Linked DNA regions of Homo sapiens: regions 1, 3, 4 and 5 are each linked to region 2. The links come from fine-mapping of genetic effects on gene expression. A gene starts in region 2. Each other region holds a variant in brackets. All regions are shown on one strand. Distances are between the middles of the regions. Region 1 overlaps VPS41 (VPS41 subunit of HOPS complex). Region 2 holds the start of VPS41 (VPS41 subunit of HOPS complex). Region 3 overlaps VPS41 (VPS41 subunit of HOPS complex). Region 4 has its middle 77 kb from the start of AMPH. Region 5 overlaps VPS41 (VPS41 subunit of HOPS complex).

Region 1 (6,564 bases), 53 kb before region 2:
AGATCAGGAGATCAAGACCATCCTGGCTAACACAGTGAAACCCCATCTCTACTAAAAATACAAAAAATTAGCTGGGCATGGTGGCTGGCACCTGTAGTCCCAGCTACTTGGGAGGCTGAGGCAGGAGAACGGCATCAACCTGGGAGGCGGAGCTTGCAGTGAGCTGAGATTGCGCCACTGCACTCCAGCCTGGGCGACAGAGCGAGACTCCTTCTCAAAAAAAAAAAAAAAAAAAAAAAGTATCACTGTCTTAACTCCACTCTAACAACCTGGAAAATACACATTCACCTTTCCAGATTCACCTCAAATTTCACTTTCTACAGGTTCCCTGTCTCCCAACTGCAAAGGTGGAGATTCCTCCCCTAGGTCTACACCTTATTCATAATCCTTTTAAAGCTCTTACTTTGCAATAATGGCCTTGAACCCCAAAGAAAGAACCACCAGAACTGAGAGTACCCTGTACTGAAGAATGAAATCCAAAGGCTTCAGACAACTAAGCCCCAGTCTACTACCCAATTCAGAGTCATGTTCCACAAAGTTAAAATTACTTCAACCCTGACTTTGAAATATGTGAAATACCAGGGTAATTTCATTCAGTGAAGGAATATTTTCAGTTTTAGCTATTTAAGGGATATTTGCCTAAATGTAGTTACCACTGAAGGGTCAGATGTTAAAACATTCAGTAAGTATGACACTTTACTCTAAAAGAGAGAAGCATCCTTAATTCTGACCATGTTTTCTTAGCCACTTTGGTGCGTAGAAGCCATCAAAATTATCAAGTTATCTATAAATACTTAACCCACAAACTTGAGATTATTTTTTAATGCAGACAACTGGAAATATGACTTGCCTTGGCATCATTTATCAGAAGTTAGAATGATTTCCATTTAAGTAATTTTCAATTCCTTTGACACATCTCTTATCACTCAAAATACGGGGTTCAAATATAGAAAACAAGTTCTTTAAACACACAAGAATCTGAGACCTGTCAATCAGTCTTAAACAAGTATTACAGGCACTGGCACACTTGAGCCAACAATGAACCACTTTGATCATATCAAAAAGATACATGCCCTGCTTGCCAATTAATGATGCCACATCTAGAACAGCATACTACAGATGGTATTTGCTTCAGGTCGATAAGTGAGTACCATTAGACCAAGAGTAGAGCAGGGTTCTTTGTTCAAGGATACATAGCTTAAGTTTATAGATCTGCTCCAAAGATTCTTTCAATGAACAGTCACCCAACATCACACTGGCCACATTATGAATAAGCCCAAAAGAGTTAGGCTGTTTAGGTGAATAATGAATGTATGGCATCTGTATTAACTGTCAAAGAGATGGTCATGGCCATACAATTTCCTATAATGTACACACAATAATCCTGATATGGGAGAGGAAGGTATGAAAAAAACCTTGATTATCTGGAAAATAGTCTAAATATGTGAAACTGCAGATTTGGAACTATGGATTAGTTCAGCGAACTTCTATCAATTTCTTATTTCTATCAGTTCACCAGCTTTTATGTTGAGCACTGATGATGCAGAGATAAATTACACAAACTGTCCTCAGGAAATTAGCATTCTATGTGGAAAATGACATTGAGGCATATAATTGTGACAAAAGTACCGTACGTTCAAGAAGTGGAGAAAAAAAAAAAAAGCAAAGTGGAGGTAACACAAAGAAGGAGATGGTTAAGCCATGTAAAGGATAAAAAAAAAAAGTGGGCCAGGCGTGGTGGCTCACACCTGTAATCCCAGCACTTTGGCAGGCCGAGGTGGGCGGATCATGAGGTCAAGAGATCGAGACCATCCTAGCCAACATGATGAAACCCTGTCTCTACTAAAAATATGAAAACTAGCTGGGCATAGTGGCACATGCCTGTAGTCCCAGCTACTTGGGAAGGCTGAAACAGGAGAATCACTTGAACCTGGGCGGCGGAGGTTGCAGTGAGCTGAGATTGCGCCACTGCACTCCAGCCTGCTGACAGAGTGAGACTCCCTCTCAAAAAAAAAAAAAAAAAAAAAAGGTGTTTGTGAATACTAAAAATGAAATTTAAGCAGCTTAAAGGAACACTGAATCTTCACGATGATACTGTCAAAGAGAGAGGAGAGAAGGAAAATGATCATTTCTTTTGCTGAAACATGAAAAAAGAGATGGGTGATCCTCCAGACACTCATACATCAATCCAAAGCAAAGAGAAAAGAGGAGCTGATTTATATTAGAAATAAATTCTTCGCAGCCAAAGAAAGCAACAAAAGGTCAGCAATACAGTCCAAAAGATGGTCGAGTCCCAAAGTCCAGGGAGAAAAATGAAACCATCATCACTCACAGATGAGGAACCAGTCACAAAAACATGTTTTGAAACTCAGGTTAGGGAAGTGCCCTAATAAGAATGTTTCGCTACATAAGGGAGGTCTTGAATGTACAAGGAGATAAGGGTGGAAGAGTAGTGGGCATGGAATACATAACCAGAACAGCTCAAGCCCAATTTACACACTTCCTTCCCTGATACCGTTTGCATCTGGAATGATCTTTTAAAGTCTCTTTAGCTTCTAAACTTTGATGACTTTATACATTACCCATAGCAACTAGAAAATGTATGAGTATATATTAAAAACTTAAATACTGCTGAACATAAGGGTTACTTTCCAAAAGTAAGATTTAAGACTCTGATCTTATATTAGTCAGCTTGAACTGCCATAACAAAATATCATAGAGTGGCTTAAACAACAGAAATTCTCCTAGT[T/A]TTGGAGACTGGAGGTCCTCAATCTGCCAGTATGGTCACATTCTGGTGAGGGTTCTCTTCCTGGTTTGCAGACAGCCTTCCCGCTGTGTCCTTATATGGCCGGCAGGAAGGGGGAGGAAGGGAAGGTCTCTCCTGTCTCTTCTTATGTTGGCACTAATCTCATCTTGAGGACTCCACCCTCATGACCTCATCTAAATTGTTTTTAACTTGTTTTTGTTTTTAAGAGACACAGTCTTGCTCTGTCAACCAGGCTAGAGAGTGCAGTGGTGCAATTATAACTCACTGCAGCCTAGAACTCCTGGGCTCAAGTGACCCTCCTGTCGTAGCCTCCTGAGTTTACACCATGCCTGGCCCTCATCTAAATTTAATTACCCCCCAAGTCCCCAATTCTAAATACCATCACATTGAGGGTTAGGACCTCAACATATGAATTAGGAGGTGGGGAAGAATTCAGTCTACAGTAGCTCTCAGTATAAAATTTCTAATTATACATCCAATGGACAAGTGAAGGTAGAATAATACACAGGAGAACAGAGAACCAGCTCCCAGAGGCCTCCTGAAAGGTAGTAACAGAAAATCACCAGTTCCATGGTTATGTTTCAAAACAATATTATCAGCCAATATATACTTACTGGATACCAAACGGCAGCAGAGAAAAGAGAAAGGGTGGGGAAGAGGAGAGAAGTATACCAGGAGACATGGCAACTATCCTCCAAGACGTTAAATAGGAATGTGAGGCTGGTACTGACACTATGAGGGGCCACACTACAAGTGAAATAGTAGTAATATAGGAGTTTACAGGAAGGAAACACCTCAGGGCTACAATCCAGGGGAAGTACCTTGCAGAAAGAATGGAGATTCACAGAAGTGTATTCTAGAGAGAAAAGAAGTCATCAAAAGCTTAGAAACAGGCAAGCCCATGGCAATATTTAGAAGGTAGTGAGCAGATAAAAATTACTAGAGAGGGAAGAAATTAAAACTAAGATTAGAAAGGTGGGTTTCACCAAATGATCAGGGTCTGGAATGCTTAGCTAGATAGTTAGGACTTGATGTGGGAAGTAACAAAGAACTGTGAAATGTTCTCAGAGACACAATGGTTAGATGGACAGAGGTCTGGGTTTTTATCAGCACATGAACACGAAAGGTATCAGCAACTAAGGAATACAGTCCATTAGTTTAATCTCAAATCAAAAACAGGAATAGAAATACCAATAGATTCTGCTACCTGACAAGGAGAATCATCAACCCACCTCTGCCTCAAGAGTTTAATTTCAAAAATTTGATATTTATCTTAACACAAAATGGCCACTAAGCTCCTGTTTTGTTTTAATCTCCTTTTTTTGTAATCATCCATTTTATAAATATTTATATAATGTCTCTTACTATAGTGCCTTACAGCAAAACCTCATCATTTTCTATTTCTAGCAAAGAAAGAAAAACACATAAAGGTGAACAGTAGAAATTTATGTTTGATCAGCAAGTTGTTTGCTCTCTCACTAGCACACTTAAAGGAATAAATATTTAAAACACATGGCATAATGCTCCTAAATATTTAACAGAGACATGGCACAATAATTTGATCACTGCTTCAACATAAGTACCCTTAATTAACAAGTTTTAAATTAAAATGCTTAAATAAATTGGAGGCTATTAAAGAAAAAGTAACTACAGTCATGCACTACATAACAACATTTTGGTCAACAAGAGACCACATATACCCACTGTTGACTAAAAAGCCAAATTGTAAAATACTCGAAGAGATTTATTCTGAGCCAAATGTAAGGACCATGACCCATGACAAAGCCTCAAGGGGTCCTCAGAACATGTGCCCAAGGTGGTTGGGTTACAGCTTGATTTTATGTTTTAGGGTGACATAAGACATCAATCAATACATGTGAGGTATATATTGGTTTGGTCCAGAAAGGTGGGACAACTCAAAGAGGAGATGAGAGGAAAGAGGGATGGTTTACAGGTCATAGGTAGATTCAAAGATGTTCTGACTGGCAACTGGTTGAAAGAGTTAAGTTATCAGCAGAAAGAATCAGCAGAAAGGAGTACCTGGGTTACGATAAGGAGTTGTGAAGACCAAGGTTCTTACTATGTAGAAGAAGTCTTATAGGTGGCACCCTTAGAGGTAATATACGGCAAACGTTTCCTATTCAGACCTTTAAGCTACTCTCTTCAGGATCAGAAAAAGACCTGGAAAGGGAAGGGGATTCTCTACAGAATGTAAATTTTCCCCAAAAGAGACAGCTTTGCACAGCTATTTCAAAATATGCCAAAGAAATATATATTAGGGCAAAATACTTTGACTTCTTTCAGGGCTTGCTATCTGTCATGTGATGCTATATTAGAGTCAGTTTGGAATCTGGTATCTTATTTCCTTTCACACTACAAAGAGTCTGTTTTGTCAGTCTTAAGATCTGTATCTTAATGTTAATGCCGGTCAGTTGTGCCTGAATTCCAAAAAGAAGAGAATATAATGAGGCATGTCTGACTCCCCCTTCCCGTCATGGCCTGAACTAGTTTTTCACGAATCCTAAGAGGAGTCCATTCAGTAGACTGAGGAGCTTAGAACTTTATTTTTGGTTTACACCATAGACTACAGTGGTCCTATAAGACTGTAATGCTTTACAAGCTATCTTTTCCTAAACATTTAAATAAAAAAAGATTATAATGGAGCTGGAAAATTCCTAACACTCTGTGTCACTGCAGCCTAGTAACAGCACAGCACAACATGTTACTCACGTGTCTGTGATGATGCTAGTGTAAACAAACCTAGTCAGCTGCCACTCATATAAAGTCTAGCACACACAATTATGTACTACATAATACGTGATAATGACAATAAATGACTATGTTGCTGGCTTATGTATTTACTATACTATATTTCTTATTGGTATTTAGAATATATTCCTCCTACTTATAAAAAAAGAAGTTACCCATAAAACAGCCTCAGGCAGGTCCTTCTGGAGGTATCAAGAAGAAGGCATTGTTATCACAGGAGATGACAGCTCCATGTGCGTTACTACCCCTGAAGGCCTTCCAGCAGGACAAAATGTGGAGGTGGAAGACAGTGATATTGATGATCCTGGCCCTGGGTAGGCCTAGGCTAATGTGTGTGTTTGTATCTTCATTTTTAACAAAAAGTTTTAGAAGTAAAAAAGAAAAAAAAAACTAAACAGAAAAGAGCTTATAGAATAAATACATAAAGAAATATTTTGTACATCTGTACAATGTGCTTGCTTTAAGGTGTGCTATTATAAAGTCAAAAGTTTTAAAATTAAAAAGTTTATAAAGTAAAAAAGTTACAGTAAGCTAAGGCTAATGTATTAGTGGAGAAAGAAAATGTTTAAATAAATTGAGTTTAGCCTAAGTGTACAGGGTTTATAATGTCTACAGTAGTGTACACTACTGTCCTAAGCCTTCACATTCACTCACTGCTCATTCACTGACCCACCCAGAACAACTTCCAGTCCTGTAAGTTCCATTCATGATAAGTCTCCTGTACAGATGTATCATTTGTCATCTTTTATACCATATTTTTATGGTATCATTTCTATATTTAGGTATGTTTAAATGCACAAATACTTGCCATTGTGTTCCAATTGCCTATGGTATTCAGGACAATAATATGCTGTACAGGTTTGTAGTCTAGAAGCAACAGGCTATACCATACAGCCTAAGTGTACAGTAGGCTGTACCACCTAGGTCTGTGTAAGTAGAGGCTATGATGTCTGCACAATGACAAAATTGCCTAACGCCACATTTCTCAGAATGCATCCCACTGTTAAACGACGCATGATTATACTATG
Region 2 (5,000 bases):
TTGCCCAGGCTCGTCTCGAACTCCTGGGCTCAAACAATCGCCCCACCTTGGCCTCCCAAAGTGCTGGGATTACAGGTATGGGCCATTGTGCCTGGTCCACGACTAGTCTTTTTAAGATACTGACACCACTGGAGAGGAGAATGCCCACTCCAACTACATATTGGCTGTTAAAGCATCAAAGTGGAATGGTGGCTTGAGGGAAAATCATTAAAATGGAAAGGGCTAATTCTACTTCATAAAGTAAAAAAACTATTTAGATTTAGGTTCTTACATATATTTTAAAAAGGTAGGGTATTCTAGTGAAAAGTCATGAGCTATGGAGACAGAGGACTGGAGATTTATTATATTATAGATATAAGCCTGAGCACGTTACTCAAGTTGCCTGAATTTCAATTTGTTTATCAGTAAAAGTCAATCATTTAACACAAATTTATTAAGTAACAAGCAATATTCTAGGTATTGGACATACAGCAGTGAACAAATCCTTGTCAGGATGTTCCAAGCTCTGTGGTAAGAGGTACACAGAAATATACAGGGAAAAAAAAAAAAACAAATTTTATAATACAGTATGTCAAACGGTGATGCACATTATAGGGAAAAATAATGCAGGAAGGTTTCAAAGCATGGTCAGGGAAGGTCGCAATGAAAAAGAACACTTGGACAAAGACATGAAGGAAATGAGGAAGCCTGTAAATATCAGGGTTCCTCAAAAAGGAACAGCATGAGCAAAGAGGCCCTGAGATAGGAACCTGCCTGGCTTTTTGAAGACTAAGAGAGCCAGTACAGCTGATGCAGAGTCACAGAAGGGAAGGAGAGTAGTGGGAAAAATGAGGTCAAGAAAAGGTGGCTAAGGGCAGCTGGGTCAAGGTCCTGTGGGACAACCAGGCTACCGTAATGGCTGTGGCTTTTCCTCTGAATAAGATTAGAAGCCCCTGGAAAGTCTAGAATATCAGAGGTGTTTCACCCATGTATGAGAGTAAACATTTACCTCATAGAATTCTTTTGGGAAGACCAAATGCAATATGGAAGGGTTTTTAAAACTAGAAAATAATGTACAAATGTGAAACATTATTATATCCCTAATTTTGTATGTGTCATTTTTATATCAGACAACTTTGTTAAATTCTTCTTCTGCACTAAACAGTGGTAAATATTTCATAGGTTTTTTTCAATGGAAGAAAAAACAATGGTTTTTCTAGGAGCAACTCTCTCCATTTCTATTCCACTATATCTAAGAACATATGAAACTCAGTTTTTTGCTTTCAAATCAAACCATAAAACAAACATTTCAACATGAAATAAAGATGCACAATGTGAAAAACAATCTCACCCTTATTCAAAGGAGCAATGGCAGTCATGAAATGATATGTTCTTAATGAGTGTTTTCCTTTGAACTGCTAGAATGGAAATAGGAGTCTCTAGTGTTAGATAAGAGACTTTGTTATCTTGTTATCACAAGGACCAGCCAAACCAAATTTCTACCTAGTCAAACGTCTCAATTATTGGCATATATAAAATATATACAGAACAAATTTTCACTATGAAGTAAAAACAAATGAAGTATGTTGAAAATAGTAAAAATTATTGAACTAGGTAAATGACTCTTATGATACTAAACAGCCCATCATCAAGTCACTGTTTAGAGACAATGACTGCAACTGACAGCCCTGTTAACTTGTGAAGAAAAACAGTATCCAACTGAAATAACACTGGAAATGGAAACTTAAGTTATCTCCCCCAAGTTCTAGCCTCTTTTTTGGTCTGCTTCTCTTTTTTGTCTTTTTTATTTTACTTCGTCATTTCATAAAATGTGTGATTACCACTACTGCTATATGAAAATAATTCATATTCCCATCACCAATTTCTACCCTAAACTTCAGTGCCACGTTGCCAGTTGTTGACTGGATACTACCAGCAACAAATAATCCCATTTAATTTTTACTAAGCCCAACAGTTCTAAGTACTCTAACTTTGTGTATAAACTCCTCTCTCCATCTTAAACCACCCTCTGAGGACGGCCTTATTATTACCCCCATCTCACACTGGAAAGTTAAATAAGTAGCTCAAAGTAGCACATTGGGTAAGAAAAGGAACCAGCACTTGGACCCCAGGCATTTTTGCTCCAGAACGGATGCATTTAATCCCTGCTGCACCGCAACAGTGCTCCAGCTCTGTACCTAACTCCAATAGATACAAAACAAAACTCATCGTCTACTCTCTCCTAGTTCTTATTGTCCTACTTCAAGTGGAAAGCAACTTAAATTTCAGTCACCCGGCCTCTCTTCCTCCTCCCACAGGCAGTCAGTCCCTGAGGTAGCCGGGCCTGCCTTCATGCCAAAATTTCCCTGGGCAAAGGCCACAGGGATGGGGCCCGAGGAAAGGCAGCCCGAACGCGGGGGTGTGTCAGAGCGCTTTCCCTAGGTGCCCTCCCGGGGCTGGCATCCTCTCTGCTCCCCGAAACCAACTTTCGCCATCCCACCCCGCCCTGCCGCGGACCTGCCTTGCGCTATTCCAGCAGCTCCGCACCTCCACCCACTCCACTCCACCCTCCCCAAACAGCCCACCCTAGTCTCTATATCCCTGTGCCCTCAACTACCACCTGCACCCTTTACCTGCTCCTCTGCTTCCGCCATGGCGCCACGGGAGAGTCACCTGACAGACCCGGAAATAAGAGGAAACCACACACTTGGCCCAGGGCCTTCTGGGAAATGTAGTTTTAGCTTCATCTGAGCCTGGAAATCTCTTCTAGGGGACGGACCTGCTAGGGTTCATTTCTGCTGCCAATTCTCCAAACTCAATGGAATTCTGCTTTGAAGGATGTGAACATAACCATTGCTAATACTATAGCTTATTTTATTGTTGTTCTTGTTTCTCTAGTTATTCTAGTGTTTATTAAGCACTTACTATGTCATGCCCTGGGTTTATAGCTTTGCATAAATTATCTCATTTAATCCTCACAGCAATTCCTACTATCATCCCCATTTATAGGGGAGAATACCGTAGCTCAGAGGTCATGCAGCTAGTAAGAGGCAGAACTAGTAATAGAATTCAGCCCTGCCTGATGCCAAAGTCTCTGTGATTGCCAAATGCTGCTTACTCTAAAAGTGTTCTTGTCCTTTTTTCTCTCTCTTTTTTAAGTATATTCAGTGAATATAAAGCAGTCTTTGCAGTGGAGAGTCAGAGAAAATTTATACGCCAACAAATAATATCATTATTTTTGCTTGCTACTTTGTCTTCTCCTGTCATATGAACATTGATTTAAAAAAAATCTCTGTTGTTTAATAAATTAATTGTTAAACTTTTGTTGAGGATATTCAATAGGTAAATGTTCAAGTGAAGACACAATATGAAGTTGTCCTTGGTCAAAATCTGCACAACCACTGTATTACTTCCAGCCTTCAGAATGACTGATTCCTTCTCCATGTTTCTGAACATTATGAATTCTGTTTCTTAACCCTCAGGAATCTGCAGCACCTTGTCCAAAGACAGACATTTTACAATTTCCATTCACTGGAGTAGCTGGTGACCAGCAGAGGGCATTGCAAATGGCAGCATGTGGTGATTGCCTCAGTACCTTTTTTGACTCCCTGTGCCTCATTGACTCTGACCCAGTAGGAAGTCATGGACTCAGTACTCTGTCTGTAGCTTGCTCAACCCATGATTCCTCAATGGCCCAGAAGCCAAGGTGACATCATCTCTGAGACACCTGTCTTCTCCCCAGGGCCTAAACAGCCTTACCTCCATCTTCTTCCTCCAAGCCTTGCTGGGGTTCCTCTTCCAGTGGGCTAATCACTCAGCCGACAGGATAGACCACCCTGAGGCATTTAAATGTCTATAAGCAGCCAGGTGCAGTGGCTTTCACCTGTAATCCCAGCACTTTGGGAGGCCAAGGCAGTCAGATTTCATGAGCTCAAGAGTTTGAGACCATCCTGGACAACATGGCAAAACCCTGTCTCTACAAAAAATACCAAAAATTAGCCGGGCATAATGGTGTGCGCCTGTAGTTCCAGCTACTCAGGAGGCTGAGGTGGGGGTTAAGGCTGCAGTGAGCATTGATGGTGCCACTGCACTCCAGCCTGGGCAACAGAGTGAGACCCTATCTGAAAAAAAAGAAAAAAGAAAAAAGAAATCCATAAGCAAGCACCCAATGCCCTAAGTATAAACCTAGGGCAAGTATAAACCTAACCCAAGAGTTTCTAAAATCTCTTGCAAAGCAGCCCAGGGCCAAACATTGCTCATGATGAACTCCAGATCCCAGAAAAACTTTAATACAGACCAAAGAGACTGTGGAAGCCCTCAGTCGAGTATCCACGGGAAAGAGAAATAAAATGAGCTCTTCCACTTTTCTGACTTTCCTCACAAACTCCAATTTTCTCTTTTCTGTTATGAGTGACAGCCACCCATAAACCTCTAGGACTACAGCCTCTCCAACTGGGCAATCTCCTCTTCTATGCTGAATGGATGAGATTGGGATGAAGAAGGAAAATAAGGGATTATTACCACTGTCTTAACCACAAGGTCATTTTTGTTTTATGGTTCCATTTTATTTTGGTGAGAAGTCAAGCAGCCCAAGCAAGCAAAGCTGAAGGCCATCCACTCTGGGCCTTCCTGGCCTTTCTACTTTTCTGGAATGAGAATGTTTATTCTCTTTCTCAAGAAGGGTGTTATGGGTCTTATTAAAGATATAGCCAGACTTTATAGGTTTTCCTCTGCTCATTTAACCGTAGAAACTCTCAATTCCCCAAGTTTGTTCCGCATTCAGTATACTCTCTTGATTACAATAAAGTATTATGAGCCTCTTTCCTTTTGGAGAGACTGGAAAAGTGAAGAGACACAGGTATGGAAAGGTGAATTAGAGGAAGAAACCTACTATGAACTAGCAGGTTCGTGCTGGGACAGTGGACAGGATGAAATTCACATGTGACCTCCAAATCCCATTTGCTCATGTGAAGTGAGAGTTTGAGGCTCTCTTATCTAGGTGGTCTTGTATTCTCCAACTA
Region 3 (6,564 bases), 170 kb before region 2:
CAGAGGCTTATAAGTTCTGATACTGAAAACACTTTCACCAAAGCCCAATCTGACCTTCAAAATTAGTGACTTCCCCAGGCAGGGACGTCACCTTTCTGGATTCCTAGGGCGTGGCATGAAAAGCCAGCTCCTCACCTCACCTCTCTTTGCCTATTAACCCATTCCCATATTTTTATTTCCTTCTTGACTTTCTCATTCTCCTTCCAATAACCTTTCTCCTGGGTCATCTGCAAACCTCCAAATCCCACTGGAAATATATGCCTATATATCGTTAAGCTTTTTGCGGAACAGGTAATCTACTTCTTTGGCTTAACGAATACCAATTTCTCTCCCATGAACCCAATTTCCCACAAAGCTCTCCGGAGTGAAGGCTGCATGATCTCTCACACCCCCACCCCCATCTTTAGACTTCTTCACTTTTAAAGTCGTGTTGTCCAGTTAATACTACTGTCCCCTGTGGAGAAGCTGGAGCCTGGCTTAGAGCACCTTGTTTCTTCCTCCTGGCCTTCATGTCCATTAGGATGACTCAGAAAGGCTGTGGCCTCAGTTTCTCTACTAATTCTACACAAATGACCTTTACCATCATCCCACTTTTTGAACACGTATACACCATGACTCCGCTTCAGAAACATTAATGACATCACACTCTCTGGCACAACCTCTTGTCCCTGCAGCTCTGCCATCCCTTTCATCTCTTACATCTGTTTTTGATGCCACCAATGTTCCTGCAATATCTTCTCCTTTCCACCCTGCCTCTTACCTAAGGCTGTCACCCTGAGTGCAGGCAGACCTCTACTTTGCAACCTGCATGGTGAATCCTGGCCCAATGGATCTCACATCATAATGCTCCTCAGCTAATAGCCTTTTCTTTTGGCTTTACCTGCAAAAATTGTTTCTAGGAAAGTAATTTCATCCATTATTAATAAAACCTCATTTTCAAGTAAATTAGAGGAAGAACAACAGTCCGAATTTTTAAGGAAATGTTTTAATTCAAGTTCTATAGAAGTTACCAGCATCCTGAAAAATAGTAATTGCTAGAGTCTTTTTAAGGAAAAGATTAAGATGCTTTGTAATTAGTATAATAATTTATATGAAAATAATGAGTTCCACTGTTCTTATGACAAATTCTGATTTAACAAGGATAATAAAGTTGCACTATTCTAGAAAACAGACAAAAGGTTAAATAAAATCCTATATTTTAACAGCTTTCAGGCAACAGACTACTGAATGGCTTCAAGAAAAATTATTACCTTACTGAAAAACATTTTTGTTAATTCCCTCAAACGGATACAATACTTATTCTCCCTAAAAATGTTGGGGTGGCCCGATCTAATGGCCACTATAACTGCTTTCATACTCGCCTCGATTCCATGTTATATTAACCATACAAATGTAAGAATGTCTGCTCAAAAACAAGTGAAAATTGGAGATGGCTAAAGAATCAAATAGCCTTCTTAAGGCCTTTAAGGTATTACTGGACAACGCAATTTTAAAGGTGATGTTTCTAATTACTCTATTTGAACAGTTTTCTAAATATCTGGGCCTAAATAAAATGTAACCATAAAATCGAAAGTTTTTAACTGATACCTAACATAAACCCTAGAAATATTTATCCAGTACTAAGTCAACTAATTCAGATGCTCATTTGTCCAAGAAAGGATACTTACTTGCAAATTGTAGTCTTGCAGAATTTTAACCAAGGAATCTCTCAAATTGGGGATCTCCATTCCTTCCTTAATACGGTGAATCAGTAGAATTGGGTCAACATGTGTGCCAATGTTGTTTAACAAGCCAGTAATAAATGCTACAAAATACCACATAAAACAATGAACATATAAGCAACATTATAATGCAATTTTATTTGCACATAATTTGCATATAATGCAATTTTAGATCAAAAGTAACTCAAAGAAAAAATTATTTCCTTCAAAGTAAGTGTTAAAACCATTTGAATTTCTAAACTCTTAAGAATTAATCTTCTAAACTTCCAAGAACTAACGCTCCTTAAGACATGAAGGAGAAAGTAAATAAGAACTGTTTTAAAACAGTTGAACAAATGATTACTTGCCTTCAAAATACAGTTTTTAGCATCAAATGGGTGTAAATAATATTTATTGACAACTGACTATGGCTCAGGTATCATATACACTTTCCTCAAATACTGTGCAAGGTAGGAATGCTGTGTCCCCATTTTACAGACAAGGGAAATGGGGTGTTTAATTTTTCCAGGGTCACACGGCTAATAAGTAATGTGCCCAAATTCACTCAGGCCAGCCTCAAGTTTATGATATGTTCTGCCACATCACTTTGCCTCTTGAGATCCTTAAACTACTACTTTATCTTGCTAGTTACAAGTGAGATTCTTTATATTGTCAAGAGGATAGTTATTAAAGTCAATTTCAGATTAAGGTAGTTACATGAACACAAAGACTTCCTACCAAACTTAAAAAAAAAAAAAAGGAAAGAGGAAATTTCAAATCACTACTGCTAGTTATTTTCAAAAGAGTTGGGTTTCTGTTAGGTGACTGCTTTTGTTTTTTCCTTTCCAAAATGGGAGACCCAATGCAAACAGTCAAGCTGAGGACCAACAAATACAAACTCTGGGTGTTGTACTGATAAAAATAGTGCAGGAAAGAGGCTAAATACTACAACACAAACATCCAAATATCATCAATGTCCAGAACAGTTACATGTTTCCAAAAAAGACTGGTAAGGTCTATACACTTAAACTATAAACACTCCCATATACAAGCTAAAAACAAAAAAAAACCACACCAACACAACCCAGATGACATTTATTCAATTTGCTTGCAGCAGGTAAAAATATGCCTCATGGGGACACAATTAATAAACTGTGTAGCCACCTGTTCTTCATCACATGCAGGTAATGCAAAGTGATGAGGCTCCAGGTTTTCCAGCACAGGAGGAGTATTGGAAATCATTACAACACACCTGGCCTATTTTTATTGTAGGTACGCTACCATTTTCTTAACCCAATGTATCTTGAAATAGTTTTTAATCTAGACATAACTGGTTACACTGAGAGAAAAAAAAGTTATAACCAGAGATGGCTTTTATGCTTACGTGGTTTGTCAATGGAATATAAAATCAAATCTTCCCACAGCTCTCCATCATCTTGCTCCTTGGCAAATTCGATTGCTTTATCAACATCATGTAATTCCTCCATAATCATCTTCAGGGCACTTCGGCTATTACCCATTCGGCCTTGGTGGGGTGAAGATGGGAGAAAGAGTTCATTTAAGGTATTTTAATAATTTTTTTAAAGAAATTGCATATCTCTTAATTTGTTTACATAGGTGGAAAGCTAAGACAAGGCTATTTTCTCATGTGACACCAACATTTACTGTCTATAACATAGCAAAATAAGTATCTCCTATTTACTGGATATTTACTCTGTACTGAGTACTCATTTAAGTGCCTCATATAAATGACATCATATAACCATCACTACAACCCTATGAGGCATGTTCTACTAATATTCCTCTTTTATAGAAGAGGAAATAGAAATGTTAGTAGCTTGCTAAGATCATACAGCTACTAAATAGTACACTGTGAATTTGAAGCCAGGTCTGTCATACTCTGACTTACTTTTGATAGACTTATATATATTCTGGAGGTCAATACCTTCACATGCAGATACACTTAAAATGTTTAAAGGCCCTAAAGTCATTCTGCCTCATGAGGTAGCTGTGCATACTGCTTTTCTGATACACTTTGTGCCAACTGCAAACTCAACTATCAGAGGGCTTCCTCATTTTCTTCTCTCCCACGTTCAGGGGAAGGCCTTTCAATAACCCTCATGAGATGAAAGTATTTATCAACCATGCCTTCTATTGGCTAATTGTCTTTACATACTTTGCTCA[C/T]TGACCTATGGCATTTTAATAGTTTAAAGTTTTCCATGAGTTTTTAATATAGTGCATGTAAGAAAGCCTTACTCAGTGGAGGGACAACAACTGCCTGGTTGTAGGTTGTCACCCTTACCCCTGTCTCTGGGCTTGCAGGAACTAGTAAAGGATCTTGAATCCTTCCCCCTGCACACGGCCATTATCAACTGATAAAAGCTGGCTTGTGAATGAAATGATATCCCATTTGATACCCCTTCCACAGCATTTTGTGTTTCTTACAAATATTATTTCCACAGTTTATGTCTCTAAAAATGGTTAGTTATTTAAAAATGTTTACAGGATTATCAAGTTTTTATAAAATCAGACTATATGTCCCTAATAAGTCCTCTACTGCTTCTAAGACAATATGACAAAAATTTATTCCACCAAAATATTTCTTGGGGAGAACACTGTTTGGAATTAGTGAATTGATGAGCTACCTAAAATTGTGATTAGAACCCCAGGAACATGCTGAAGTAACAAAATGCAGCCCCAAAAGCACTTCTCCTAAGAAGGGCAGGTGCTATAACTGGACAGTTCTGGGTTTGTGGCTGAGCACCCATGAATCTGCATACACATAAAAGGGAATAGAGGATTTGGATTATTTTTCAACAGAGGCAAAGAGGCCAATGAGAGTGAGTGCTGTATAAGGGAAAGGCGTAAAGCGGAAAAACCCTACTGAGGTCAGCAGGGAAGTGACAATGGAGAAACACCAAATATGAATGTTATGTTATATGCTACATTATGCAATCCTCAGTACAACCCACATTGTTGTCATGCACGTGGCTCATTTTGGAAGAATGTGAAAAGATGACAAGTTTTGTTTCTTGGTATGCATGGTACAAAAATTGTGACTCATGTGGAGGTAGGAGCCAGAAGACCAGGAACACTGACACCTAGATTATATTAAAAAGCTCTCCTCCTTCTCCAAAACTATGGTATTCAATTGCATTTCCTCTAGTTATTTAGGGTGTGATTTCTAAAAGTGATTATTTATTTTCTACCAATATGATGGTAATATAAGCTGATTATAATTTTTTAGAAAATGAAAAAACTTGTCAACTCATCTACAACTTAATCTATGTTGTGAGGTATAAACTGATAAATTTTGATATGTTGATTATACATTGCCAATATGTTATTTCAACATTTATGAAACAACTCTTCCTTCTTTACTGTGCTGTGAAGTCTGTTTCATATATTAAATTATTGTAAAAATAGGCTCATATTCTGTGTTACGTTGGTCTAAAACCTATGTCCTTTCTTACACAATTTACTTCATGTTGTCATCCCATTTCTTAGTTTATGGGGACCAAAATGAATAAAAGCTACTTACTCAGAAGATAAACTGTCTCTTCTACAAAGTTTCTCTGTTGACAGATCTCAAGAGCCTTCAATTAAAGCAGGGTAAAAATGTTACTATAGGCGACCAAATAAGAACAAACAGTAATAAAGTCATTTAAACTTACACTTGAAAGAATTTTTCCACAGCTTCTTTAAAAATAAAACAAAGCAAACAAATAAAGAACACATCTCCCTAGAATAGCTGCACTCAGTTACCTCTCAGAGGTACTGGACTCTACACAATTCAATTTAAAACATATTTGAAGCTACTCAGAACATTTCATGAGCAAGAGTAGAAAACAAGACACCAAATGAAAAGAAAGGGCCTTTCCCACTAAGCTTTCTCTCTTTACACTACTTCAGGTTTCCTTACAGCACTGCTTCCTTCCAAATCTGTAGTCATTTGTTTAAGCTCTGTTTCCCTCCATTAAGATGTAAGGAATGTTGCTCATGGTTGAACTTTTCCTAGTATTGTGCATACCATAAGCTCAGGAAATATGAATTCATGCTGCATGAATGAACGAATGAATGATTGAATTTACTAGGAATATTTGTACTGCCAGATCACAGGGGCTGAAAGAGAACTCTGCTCAAGGATCTGTCAAAGGTGAGAAGGAAAAAACACTTTTGATGATCAAGAAGGATCCAAAAAGGAGCAACTATGCAGATGAGAGCATTTCCATTAGTCTTAAAAAAAAAAAAAAGACCTACTATATATTGATAAATTACTTACTAATTCTAAATTAATCAGGATACATTTACTATATTCTCTGTGCTGGGTGCTAGAGGGTCAGGTTAGATAGAGATGCAAAGATGACAATAATAAAAATGTTAGTGATGATTATAGGTAAGAGGAAAACAAAGAAGAGAATAATGGAGGAGGCTTAGTAGGAGCATTAGCAGCATGAGTCCACCCCCGGGAGCTCAGGGTCCAGGAAGTGACAGAGATGTGACAACGCATTATTCCACGATTAGAGTAACATGAACAAAGGGCCATGTGTACAGAGGAGGGACACTGAAACTGTGTGGTCCTCTTGTGAGAAGCTTCAAGGGGAAGTGGCATCTGAACCGGGTGCAGTATGATGAATGAGTGCACCTGGGAAACCTTATCTCATACCCTGCCTACAAAACTTTCTATTGCATCGCTCCACTCAGACTTAAAGCTGAGAATCTCTACCACGACTTACAAGGCATCCACAACCTAGCCCTTAATTTCTGTGCAGCTTCACCTGCCTCTGCTCACCTCTCCATTGCGTCCCCTTGCCTGAAATGCTTCCCTTACCCTGACTCTCCACTATTGGATGGCACTACCTTA
Region 4 (6,564 bases), 200 kb before region 2:
TCCAAATTCCCAATAGATTAGTCTTTGGGATTTGTGAACAAAACTGTGGAACTCCCTGGAATTGTCATGAATTCCTCAAATCACAAGCTATTCTGTCATTTTCAAAACATTTTATTTACCTGTTTTTGAATAATAATGAGTAAGCATAATAATATAGGTAAATTATTTTTTCTGGGATGGGTTATACACTAAATATTTTAATTTTCTGCTAAAAACAGATATAATAATAAACAGCTTTAAAAATTGGACCAATATATTGTGACAAGATTATATATTTCAATAACATGTAAAAATGTTCTCTATCTGATAATAAAACATTATAAGCTGAGAATATTAACATGCAACAAATCGCTGTTAAAATCACTTAAAATTTTTAAAATACTGGCTGGGCACAGTGGCTCATAATCCCAGTACTTTGGGAGGCTGAGGCGGCTGGATTACCTGAGGTCAGGAGTTTGAAACCACCCTGGCAAACACGGTGAAACCCGTCTCTACTAAAAAAATACAAAAATTAGCCAGGCATGGTGGCACACACCTGTAATCCCAGCTACTCAGGAGGCTGAGGCAGGAGAATCGCTTGAACCTGGGAGGTGGAGATTGCAGTGAGCCGAGATCATGCCACTGCACTCCAACCTGAGCAACAGAGTAAGACTCCGTATCCCCACCAAAAAAAAATTTTTAAATACCATATTTAATATTTAAAAGTTATTAATTCTTAAAATGGAAATGTTAAATATACCAAACACCAATTGTCCTACTTAATAGCCTCAGTTTTTTTTTTCATGACAAACATTCCAAATGTAGAAAAAATTTCTTTCATTTCACATTGACATTGGTTAATTAAGACTGCACCAAACAGCATCTTGAAGTTGGATATTAGGGCAGTTGCTGCTTCATTTAAGTTTAATCTTTTTTAATCCAACGAAAGGATTTTTTTCATTGCAATGAAAATATTTTGTTTACTTGCCCTGATTTTGGTTTTGTTATTGAAATTTATAATTTATATTGCTTTGCTAATTCAGATTTTTTATCCATTTCTAATTTCCCAATGAAGCATTCCAAAACAATATTCATAGCTTCTTTTCTTCGCATTTCTTCTGTTAAAGTATTTATAAACAACTATAGCTTACAGCAAATGTTCAAACACTGGAAAACATCAGGAAATACAAGTGAGTAGTATTCAAATAACCTAACATTTGGATCTCCTAGCAAGGTTAACACTACTAGACAGAATCAAGTTTCAAAATTGCCAATTTAAAGACTTATTCTACATTCATAATGTATTATTTCTTGGAATCCCCCTCATAAGGTTTATGTAAAGTGAACCATAGGTATACATTTCTTAATATTTATTATGATTTGCAAGAATCCTTGCTTGCAGCAGATAGGACCATAGTACACTCTTGGAACACAGCAACTGCTACGAGCCAGACTGTTGGATTAGATGAGGATGACGTCCCTCCTCCACACTCCCATTCCCATTTCCCAAAATGTTGACCTTAACCTTTGACTCTCTTGTAGGGGTTTCCTGCTCTTAATGTCAATGGATTCCCTTGAAACAGTAATGATCTCTTTGTTGATTATTAAGCTTCAATCATCACAGAATTATAATACTTTTTTCCATTGTCTCAATTTCTTCACTGATTTTTCTCAAGATTTGCAAAAACCAATTTTGCAGTCAATCCTGAGAAAGAATTACTTCATGGGTACACTAAATCCAAGTGTAAAGTCACAAAGAACTAAGCTAGAGCAGCAGTAGTGGGTTACAGAGGAGGGGTGGATTGGGGTGTTCTTCTGAAAGTAGAGACAAGAGCCTGTAGTATCTCCTAAGGGATGTGAAGAGTGAGAGACAGAGGAGATTGTTCTAGAATGACTAAAAAAAAAAAAGATTTCTGGCTGGGTGTGGTGGCTCACACCTGTAATCCAGCACTTTGGGAGGCCGAGACGGGTGGATCACTTGAGGCCAGGAGTTTGAGACCAGCCTGGCCAACATGGCAAAACCCTGTCTCTTTTAAAAATACAAAAATTAGTTGGGAGTGGTGGTGTATGCCTGTAATCCCAGCTACTTGGGAGGCTGAGGCATAAGAATCACTTTAGCCTGGGAGACGGAGGTTGCAGTAAGCCAAGACAGTGGCACTGCACTCCAGCCTGGGTGACAGGGCGAGACTCTGTCTCTAAATAAATAAATAAATAAACAATTTCTGTACAGACAGGCCTGTCTATCGTAGGCAGTGCTAAAGGGAAATGTGATTAATTCATGTTCAGGTTTTCTATTGGCTAGGTAACCAACCATCCAAAAACTTAGTGTCTTTCATTAGGAAAATGCAAATCAAAACCACAGTGAAATACCAAATGATACCCATTAGGATTGCTATTTATAAAACAAAACAAAAAACAACCAAAAACACCCTCAGACAATAACAAGTGTTGGCAAGGATGTGGAGCAATTGGAACACTTATGCATTGCTGTGAGAATGTAAAATGGTGCAGGCAATTCCTCAAAAATTTCAAAGTAGAATTACTATAGGATGCAGTAATTCTGCTCTGGGATATACCCAAAAGAATCTAAAGCAGAGTCTTGAACAGATATTTATACACTAATGTTCACAGCAGCATTATTTATAACAGCCTAAAGATGGAAGCAACCATCAATAAATGAATGGTAAGCCAGTCACAAAAGGACAAATATTGTATGATTCCACGTACATGAGATACCTGGAGTAATCAAATTCACAGAAAGTAGAATGGTGGTTGCCAGGGACTGGAGAGAGGAGGGAATGGGGAGTTAGTGTTTAATGAGTACAGTTTCTCAATTTAGGATGAGGAAAGGGGTCGAGATGGATGGTGGTGATAATTGCACAACAGTGCAAATGAACTCAAGGCGACAGAATTGTACACTTAAAAAATAGTTTTGCCCACGATGATCCTGAGTGATGAGCAGGAATTTAACGATGCTGCTTCTGTTCCCAGTATAGAGTCTTCCCAGAGTGACAGCAGGAATGCCAAGCATGGGTCTTGTCCAGGTCTGTCCTGCTCTGGCTATGCAAGGTGGGCGAGCCACTTCCCCACTCTGGCCTTAGTTTCCTCTTCTGGTGAACAAAGGGAGAAGAGTGGAGGGTTCCCCAGGTTCCCTCAGCACTCATTTTTTCTGCTTTTCCATGGGACAGGCTACTATGAGGCTCCTGACTCACCTGGATTTGAACCCCAGACCTGCCGGCTCCCTGCTGGTGATTTTGGGAGTCACTCTCATGTGTGGTGGTTGATGCTGGCTGTCTGCTAGGGTCTTTGCTGGGGCTGTCATCTGCTCCACCTATGCAGAGCCTCCTTGGATGCAGGACCTGGGCTGTCTTAGAGCTTGAGCATCCTGGTAGAACAAGATGGAAGTGCA[T/C]GATGCTTTTATGACCTAGCCTTGGTCACCTCTGCCATGTTCCAGTGGTCAAGGCAGTTATATTGTAAGAAAAACATGTGGGATATATTCTAGTAGGCCATTTACAAGTCATTCTTTTCTCTTCTATTTTCTTTATCCATGAAGGGCTTGAAGAAGTCAGAGAGAATCTGAGTCTTTCCCAGATCATAAGTTATCACAAGTGTAACACTGGAGACCATTCCTATTTTGTATGTATTTCAGTGTGCCTGTTTTATTTAAACAGCTGCTGCTGGTGGTAACACGTACATAAGACTGAAACACAGCAAAAGGACAAAGCAGCTTAGAATTTCCACAGTTGGAACAGACAGAAGACATTTGACACATCCACATCGTTCCATATGCTGAGACCCAAGACCTGCTGTCAGTAATCTCAAAATCATTGCAAAATGCTCTCTCATCCTACACCCATATCTGTGATCAGGATTCTGGAATGGACATTTTCTCCTCCCTCTTTTATTTTTATCTAACCATTTTTATAGATCTTCAGTAAATTTCTTTCAGGAAAATAAGATCACTGTTAAAATCATGATTTTGGCTGGCTGATGAAATTTTCCAGATTATCTTCTTTAAAAGACTACAGAAACATGATTTTACTTTCTCTTTTCATTTAGCTTAAAATTAAAAGTCAATTTTTTAAAATCATTGATCCTAACTACTTTTCCAGCATCCTAACACTGGTCACAAGATGCACAGATTGAGAAAATAAAATCACGCCTTCCAAAAGAAAGCCAGCCAAGTTTTGCCGCCTTCTTTAAAAAAGTACATCACCCACGAGCCTGATGAGATGGCAAATGCACAGCTTGAGTTGGTTCTAAGAAAAATGCCTCAGAAGATTCATTCTAAAAGTGTACTCTGACCTTACTAAGCAAGACTACAAAGTCACAGTGATACCTAACGACATCAAAATAGTAGCTGATATGAATATCTTCCTTTGATGTAATTAAGAAATACACCAACCAGTGACACTCAACACAGAGTTCTTTCCAGGTTAGGGTGAACTTGGAATTAAACTGTTGTTAGAAGAACTGTCAAGACAGTTTCATTTCTTACTCAAGTAAAACACTGAGGGAACAACTACAAATTAGAAGATACAAAGCCGTAAGGAATATTTGCTTCCAAGGAGAGAGTCAAAGAGATACAATCTCCTTACTAAAAGAAGGAAACTGATAACTGCAACTATAAACTATAACTGCTGATGATCCTTTTAACACTTCTTATACATTTTTTTAGTCATTCAAGTAATGTATAAATATATTCTTATAAAAAAGTATTAGTTGAGCCCAGAGGTTCAAGACCAGCATGGGCATCATGATGAGACTTTGTCTCTACAAAAACTTAAAAAATTAGCCAGGTGTGGTTGCACACACCTATAGTCCCAGCTACTTGAGAGGCTGAGGTGGGAGGATCACTTGAGCCCAGGAGGCTGAAGTTGCAGTGAACCACGATTGTACCACTGCACGATCACCCTGGGCTACAGAGTGAGACCCTGACTTATAAACAAACAAACAAACAGACAAACAAAGTATAAAGCCAAAGAAAACCTCTCTTTCCCGGTTCTTCCATCAATGCTCACCCCACTCCAGGTAACTTACTGCTGTTATTTCTATGCATTGTACACACATACCTATGCATTTACTTGATTGTATACATACCTAAAGAACATGATTGCTTTGTTTTATTGTCCATAAGTGGAACCAGCTTGCTTCCTTACACTTTACAATGTCTTGGTCCATTTTAGTACTTGCTAGAATTTCATAGCATGAATCATAGTTTATGTGGGCCTTACTGACTGATATTTACAATATCATTGGTCATGGTTTTTTGTTTTTGTTTTTTGAGATGGCGTCTAGCTCCGTCACCCAGGCTGGAGTGCAGTGACACGATCACGTCTCACTGCTGCCTCAACCTCCTGGGCTCAAGTGATCCTCCCATCTCAGCCTCCTGAGTAGCTGGGACTACAGTTGCATGTCACCATTCCTGGCTATTTTTTTTTTTTAATGTTTGTAGAGATAGGGTCTGTGTTGTCCAGGCTGGTCTTGAACTCCTGGGTTCAAGTGATCCACCTGCCTCAGCCTCTCAAGGTGCTGGGATTACAGGTGTGAGCCACTGTGCCCGGCTGTCATGCTTTTTGTGTACAAGTGTGAGAACTTCTCTAGGATACATAGTTACAAGTTGAATTACTGGAATGAGGCTATCTATATTTTTAATTTTAATTAATGTTGTCAAGTTACCTTCCAAAAAAAAAAAAAACTGTGATCAATTTACACCTCCAACCTACAGTATAGAAATGTATCTGTTCCCTGTCCCCCTGCCAACAGCCTGGCAGATTTTATTACTTTTCCCTAAGTATTAGTGAGGTTGAGCTTTTTCTATCTCTTGTTTTGCCATTTGTTTTTGCTGTACAGTGAATCGCTTCTTCCTATCTTTTGCCGATTTCTTACTTGGGTTATTTGACCCTTCTTTTCATTTTAAAAATTGATCCTAGTTGCTCAAGATATTTAGAGGAATTTCTAAAATTCTGGAAGGCAGGAAATCATATCTTCATCCTTTTGTATTCCTTTGGACTTACAACTGTGCTAACTTATTTTTGTAACATTTACAAAATTAAAGATGGGTTTTGCTTAAGCCACAACTACATACAAGATTGCAAAGTGGCAAATACACACAAAATAGGCATAGTAACTACACTAAAAGTTGATGTCTTGGAAAGGACTAGTCTAGCAATGTGTAGAAATATCTGGTCAGGGAATAAAAAAGATTTGGATACATTTTTATTAAGAAATTGGCATATCCTTTTTCATTAGAAATTCAAGCAGGAACAAGAAAAAAAAAACTGAAAGAATCTGTGTTCAAGGACAGACTCACAGATTGATTTGCACCATCAGGAAGCTCCTGGGTGAATGGACTTGAGCCCACTGGAAGGGTTTTAATTCTTGGTTGTCAAGACAACTGTATTCCAACAGACTGTGTCAGCAGAATTCTTCAACAATCCTCACCTTCCCGCTGCTTACAAAGGTCTGTTAATGTCTCCTTACTCAATAGACCAAGCTTTTGCATTGCCGTCTGATTAGGAGGCGAGAAACAGGACTCTGCTCTGAGAACAACCCCTCCATCTCCCAGAGTCACCTTCCTGCACT
Region 5 (6,564 bases), 180 kb before region 2:
CATGTGCCGGCAATGGAAGACCACCACGCTGAAGGGCTTAGCTGCATCTGGCGAGGAGGGCAGAGAAAGGAGGAGAACTTAATGCAACAAGCAAGATCATTTTAAACCAATCCCGACTGAAAGTCGAGTTGCAGTTTAATTTTCAGCAATAAGGTGCCTTTAGAGAATGGCTTATTTACAAAAGCATTCCTGAGGGGTGGTATGATCAGACACAAAACAGGTATTATAATCATGTTGCTATGCGATTCACAGGTTACTTGCTTAGCCTCTGTGTCACTTACCCAGACTACATTGAGGACAACTGTAGGAAAACCAGCAAGTGTATGTGCCAATGCGCCCCTAACCCCTATAATCATTATACACCACAGCTGAAGTTGAGTCTGTGGCTTCATAAAAATGCTTTGCCAGTCCACCTGCTACCTTTGCCAAGACCACACACTGACTCAGAGGCGGACCTGGGTTACAAGCCCAGGCTGTGGTGACCTTGCATTTTACTGCACTTGTGCTTGGGCAGATCCCCTCATCTGTTCCTGCTCTGTGTGGCCAGCTTATTTTTGGTAAGATTTAGTGTCATCAGCAGAGTAAATTTGGAGTTAAATCTAACTGTAGAGTGGGAATGTATGTGGTTCCTTTTTGCTGCAACACTGTCTGAAATGCTATGGAAGCTCACTTCTTCACCTGAGCCCATGCAGTTTTCAACAGAAGCACTTAAACATCCAAATCTAATTCCTCTAGAAAAGAACCTAAGTAGAACAACTTCTCATGGACTGCCCCATGAAATAATCCTTTAATCCTAAGTAAACATGAGGTCAACTAGGTCTTTTAGTACTTTGTTATGCTGAACTTATATTTGAAAAGCATTTGTTAGCATCCTAACAATGCTTTGTTAGTTTCCGCTTTTGAATTATGCAAATTTCTTCTGTCATAATAAACCTTAAGAAGGTGCTTTTCATTACAGATGAAGACATATATCTATCTGCCAAGAACTAGAAATAAACAAATGCTTATGTCTTTTAAAGACTCACAGTTCCAATTAGATGGCAGGGATTATGTATGTTTCCACTGAAATGTGAGATGACTTGGGCATGTAGAACCATATATCAGAGAAAAACACTAAAGAAAAGGGAATGCTACCTATAAATTTTTTTTCCCAGACATGTATATGGTTCTTCTACCTTGAAATTTAAATGCTGATGGTTAGTTTTCATTTTGTTTTTACCCTAGACTAGCAGTTCTAAAAGAAGGGCCCCTGAACCAGTGGCATCAACATTACCTGGGAACTTGTTAGAAATATACATTCTCAGTTCCTGCCCTGGAAGTTTGGAACCAGAGACTCTAGGGAGTCTGACTGGGTCAGCGATCTGGGTTCCAATAAGCCTGCCAGGTGACGATGACTCACCCTAGAGCTTGAGAACCTCAGCTCTAAGCAATGGCAGCACCAGCATTCCACTGAGCAGGATGGAAGCCACAACACTTCTCTCCACTGGGTTATTCTGAAAGTTATATAGTTTTATAAACGGTAGTTGGCTAATTCCAAAATTTTGATTCCACTCATCATTAAAATACATGTTTGGGATTTTTTTGGGGAAAACCTTCTTACCTGATGGAAGAATAGGGGAAAGGCACGACTCACAGATGTTCTCCTCTGTAAGAAAACACACATACTTTGGATTATGCCCTGTTTATACCTGCTTGGCCATTTCTGAAAGCAGGGCACGTGGTTCCATATGATTATTTCAATTTTACCCACCATCAACAAGAACACCTTTCATTTGAGTTCGGTGCATTTTCTTCAGTAAGGACAAAGAGTCAGCTACGAGAATCTTCTTGCAGCCTTCACGAAGCAGAATCTAATGCATACATTTTAAAAGAAAAGCCATCTTAAGTAGACTCAAATCTGAGGGGTGAAGGGACACTGTACTGGGGATTCCAAAAGCTGGCATGCTTGAAATACTCAAAAGGGGCACTCACTGATTCTCTTGCCCTCAGTACCCTCTTCCTGCCAAACCACTGCCAGGCTGACCTGGCCAGCCAGGATCCACTCATTACTCTGTGCGTCATTTCATCATTTCTTCCAACCATACACGGGCTCCTGTAGCATTTGTATAATCAAACATAAATTCCAAAGTCTGGCAAAGAAGGCCCTATATTAACTAACCCTATTGCTACTTTAGAGGGCTTCCTTATACAGATCCTCTTGGGCAGACTTTGGCTCCTACATCATGTGTTCATTCCATTCTTCAGATCTTTACCCAGAATGAAAACCTGCTATTCCAAAATCATCAATTTATTTCATAAATTAATCTATTTACTGCACAAATAAGTACTGGGTCCCTATCACGTATAGGGTACTGGGTATAGATAATAAACTAAACAGATACAATCTCTGTCTTAAATCCCCTTGAGGATGCAACCTATCTTTTTCTTTCCAAATCTAATCCAAACCATTCAGCATAGTGCTATGAATGTGGTGTGTGTGTGTGTGTGGTATTAACTGACTATAATAACCTTCAAATTTGGTGACTCCTGGGAGGGGTTTGAAAAATGACCATGAA[T/C]ACAAATATTCTCTCATAAGAGTCCTTTTCTTTATTCTTCATCCCAGCATTATAGCTTTTGTTTCTTTACACATTTTTCTTATTCCCCTGCAGGCTTTTTACTATTTCCTCCCTTCCTGCCTGGAGAATGACAAGAGACATCACAATGCTTTGGCAGCCTCAGAAGTCAGAAGCACACAGTGGAGGATGATGCCCATTTCTGGCTGGTACCAATGTTGTATTTCAGAACTGGAGGCACGATGGGGTCCAAGATCCTCCCCTGCTTTTAGGTGGGGACACAGCAGGGACAGGCGACACTTTACCTTTCATGTCCATTCTGTGGGGCACAGTGTGAGCTCCCACCCTTTGCTGGGTTTTCTTAGGTATTAGTAGGAAACTGAGAGGCTCCAGGAGGTGTGCATAAGCCAGATGTCATTTCATTTATTATTATTATTTTTTTTTAACCAGAACTTGTTGCTGCTTTTTCAGAGGGAGAAACTCAAGGCCTGAAGGACAGAGACGCTCTGGGGCTGTGCCTGTGGCTTCTCCCTTTGGGCCCTATGTGTCTTATCATACGCAGTTATGTGCAGTTACACATGTCACATCATAGAAGTTCACATTAACAGACAGCGCTGTCTCACCACAGCCCAGCTCTGAGGCTGAGAAGCATGTGTCTTTCACGGGCAAGTGCCACTGTTTAGAGGGGGCACTTTGGCTTTCTTCATACTGAAGTCACTCTCGACTTGACAAGCTAGATGGGCATTTTGCTTTCATAAGTTTTAAATTCATGCCACTGGGGAAGAAAAGTAAGGGAGCAGCCAACTGCAGCCCTCTATCCTCAGTGGTCCACGTGTTCCTCTGAAAATCCCAAAGAGCACTGGCTTTGGGTGAATCCAGCCGAAAGCCTTTTTCCCCTAATTATACAAAGACAAATTAATATTCAGGAAAACAAAACTAATGTCTAGATTAAAGTTCTATGCCTGCCATTTCTAGTATTGATGAACAGGAAATTACATGATTTTAGTATTCCTACATTAATTGAGAAACTGCCTATGAAGTTTTATTCTTTAAAATTCTACCAGGAATCAATTTTTTTTGGATTTTTAAAAAAATACATTAAAATTTTAACAGACTGCATTAAAACATACAGGTAGAAGAGAAAAATAACAAATACAGTAAGAAAGATAGCTAAGAAATATGGATGTCAGGAAACTTTAAATAAATTTAAAAGCAAACATATAAAGCTGCTTAGCCTCCAAGACAAAAATAAAAAACTTAAGAGTAATGGTTTCAACCACAACATCTCAGATAAAACAATTTTAAAAAATGGCTCTGACTCTCGTGGGTGCTCCAGGCCCATGGCATGAATTATATAAGAGAAAGGCAGGGCCAGCAGTCTAGACAGAGGCCACTGTGTCTACAAGCTAAAAAAGAAAACAGCAAAATATGCAAACCAGGAAGGAGCCATATCCTCAGCAGGATTACATTTTTCTAAACAGGTACAATCTGTCCGCCTGCAGATAGCATTTTCTAGGAAAATTCATTATTCAGAGGCAAACAGCCAGGAGAGGGGAAAGTACACAAATACAGCTTACTGCTATCTCCTACTTCATTTGGTCAAAATTCAAGGCTCCCAATCAGAAAAACAGGAAAACATTTTAAGTTTCATTTATATGATCCCAGGCAGGTATTTCAAAATATGAGACTATCCTCTATAGAATGTAATCATTTATTCTATAACATCTGTAATAATGTGTAGGCAATTAAAGGTGATAAGTGAAGGAAGACAGTACAAGATTATAATGTACTACAATCTACAGGTATTGCTTTCAACATCAGACATAGGACAAGGCATTATGTTGACTATGGATTCCTAGTAGCAACTCCATCAGTGACTCATGAAAAATGTGCTGTTGTTCACATTCATTTCACCCTCAAAAATTCATACTTGCAATTTCCCATGAGTGTCTTTTTTATAAAGACACTGATGGCCAAAAGTCAGATGCCACAGCAGTTGGCGTAAGCAGGTCATCCTCACCTCTTTTTGACCTTCACACTCATGATTTTGGATGACTGCTATGTTTCAAGGTCATCTTACCCAGCCTATCTTCGCAACCACAGACTATCATCACCTTCCCCATCTCCCTTCTAACTTGCAAATGTGATGTTCTTTACATACTTAGGGCACATGCACACTCTTCTGTTACTCAGGTTTCGATGACCAGAATGGCACTGAGCACTGCTGCTCTTGATCTGAGCACTATCTTTCATTATTTTGTGCTATTTTTCTTTTTAAAATATGAAATATTAAAAAAAAACTGAAAACAAAAAAAGACCCAGTCCCTACCACCTAGATTTAACAAATCTGTTGATATTTTCCCACGTGCTTCAGATCTCATTCCAGAAAATAAAGTATTACAGACACAGCTGACACTTTCTTGCCCTCTACCATTCCTGCTCCTTCTTTTCAAACACAACTCCAACTTCATTTAGTGTGTGTCCAGCTGAAATATACAGCTGGCTGGGGCTCATGTAACATAGATCTGGTCAACAAGATAAACATCAAGCCTGGGAAAGCAGCCCTTTCAAATCAAAAAGCAAAGCCTCATTAGGAAAAAACCCCTTGCTTCCCGCATGTGCCATATGAAGTGTGGATGTAAAGCCTAGTGATACGGCATCTACTTTGTCACCAAGAGGCAACAACCCTGAGGTACACTCTCCTGTTAATGCATGCTGAGGTTATGTCCAGTTTAGGGCTACTAAGGAAATCCAAAGGACATTCTTGTACAGATCTTTTTATGGAACTGATTTTCATCTCTTGAGTAAATACCTAGGAGTGAAATTCCTGGGTCATGGAGTAGGTGTATGTTTAATTTTTCAAGTAAATGACAAACAGTTTTCCAAAGTGGTTATATAGCATTTTATACTCCCACATATTAAGTTGGATATCTAATAAAAATATCTTCCCTCTTGAATAATAATCTTACTCTTAATTTTTATGTTAAGAGTTAGGACCAGTTTATTAATTTCCATGAAAAATTCTTTGGATATTTTGATTAAAATTTTATTGAACATACAGATGATTATTTTAGGGAGAACTAATAACATTTATGATATGGATGTACTTTTAACAATTAAATAAATGGTCAAGTTCAATTTGCTATTGATTTATGTATTATTTTTGCATTTGTGTTTTTAAAAAAAAGATAGGGCTATAATTTTCTCATACTGCCCTCACGTAATGCTGGTATTAGGGTTACACTAGCATTCCATAAGGAACTGAGGAACTTTTCCATTCAATTATCTGGAAAAGTAAATGTAACACAGAAGCTGCTTTTTATTTAGTTTTATTATTTTTAATTAATTTTTTTTGACAAGGTCTTGCTCTGCCACCCAGGCTGAAGTACAGTAGCATGATCAGAACTCACTGCAGCCTTGACCTCCTGCACTTAAGTGATCCTCCTGCCTCAGCCTCCCATGTAGCTGGGACCACAGGCATGAGCCATCACGCCCAGCTAATTTATGTATTTTTAGTACAGACAGGTTTTCACCATGTTGCTCAGGCTTATCTCAAACTGCTGAGCTCAAGCCATCCGTTCACCTCAGCCTCCCAAAGTGACGAGATTACAGGCATGAACCACCGTATCCAGCCAGCTATTTTTTAAAAGGATAAAACTTGTCTCTAAAACTGTCTATGGAATAAGTGCCTTTATTGTAGCTATACATTTTGACTACCAATGTAATTTAGTTAATGATTATAGGTCTATTCTATTTGCTTGAGTAAACTTTTACAACTTATTATTTTCCTAGAAAATTGTACAGTTCTTCTGAGTTTTCGAAGATATTGATATAAACTCGTATTCTTTGTTTATTTCAGGTGTTGAAAACTTAGTCTGCAAGGACTTTGTTTTTTACGGTTATGCTGGTTGTTTCCCCGTGCCTTTTTCTTAAACTTTATGGAATTTGCAAATACATTTTGTGATGTTTCCTGAAGGTTTATAGACTACAGAAGCTTATAAGCATGCAGTTT

Evidence for each region. PIP is the estimated chance that this variant, and not a neighbour inherited with it, causes the effect.
Region 1: its variant is fine-mapped to the expression of VPS41 in whole blood (TOPMed, PIP 0.98).
Region 3: its variant is fine-mapped to the expression of VPS41 in whole blood (TOPMed, PIP above 0.99).
Region 4: its variant is fine-mapped to the expression of VPS41 in whole blood (TOPMed, PIP above 0.99).
Region 5: its variant is fine-mapped to the expression of VPS41 in blood mononuclear cells (TOPMed, PIP 0.90).

Annotation. Positions count from the first base shown.
Region 1 is chr7:38,853,203-38,859,766 of GRCh38, forward strand. The region is part of intron 4 of VPS41 (VPS41 subunit of HOPS complex); the gene reads right to left. Among named protein-coding and RNA genes, the nearest start is that of VPS41, 53 kb to the right of the region's middle. The variant T/A (reference allele first, on the strand shown) is at 2,750.
Region 2 is chr7:38,906,542-38,911,541 of GRCh38, forward strand. It overlaps VPS41 (VPS41 subunit of HOPS complex), which reads right to left and starts at 2,650. Exons shown (of 29, transcript NM_014396.4): 1 at 2,613-2,650. The coding sequence starts at 2,633. RefSeq lists an enhancer at 2,658-2,757.
Region 3 is chr7:38,740,318-38,746,881 of GRCh38, forward strand. VPS41 (VPS41 subunit of HOPS complex) reads right to left here. Exons shown (of 29, transcript NM_014396.4): 23 at 5,242-5,296; 24 at 3,085-3,225; 25 at 1,668-1,804. Among named protein-coding and RNA genes, the nearest start is that of AMPH, 110 kb to the left of the region's middle. The variant C/T (reference allele first, on the strand shown) is at 3,885.
Region 4 is chr7:38,705,008-38,711,571 of GRCh38, forward strand. No RefSeq gene overlaps it. Among named protein-coding and RNA genes, the nearest start is that of AMPH, 77 kb to the left of the region's middle. The variant T/C (reference allele first, on the strand shown) is at 3,389.
Region 5 is chr7:38,726,942-38,733,505 of GRCh38, forward strand. It overlaps VPS41 (VPS41 subunit of HOPS complex), which reads right to left. Exons shown (of 29, transcript NM_014396.4): 26 at 1,751-1,850; 27 at 1,601-1,645; 28 at 1-47. Among named protein-coding and RNA genes, the nearest start is that of AMPH, 99 kb to the left of the region's middle. The variant T/C (reference allele first, on the strand shown) is at 2,556.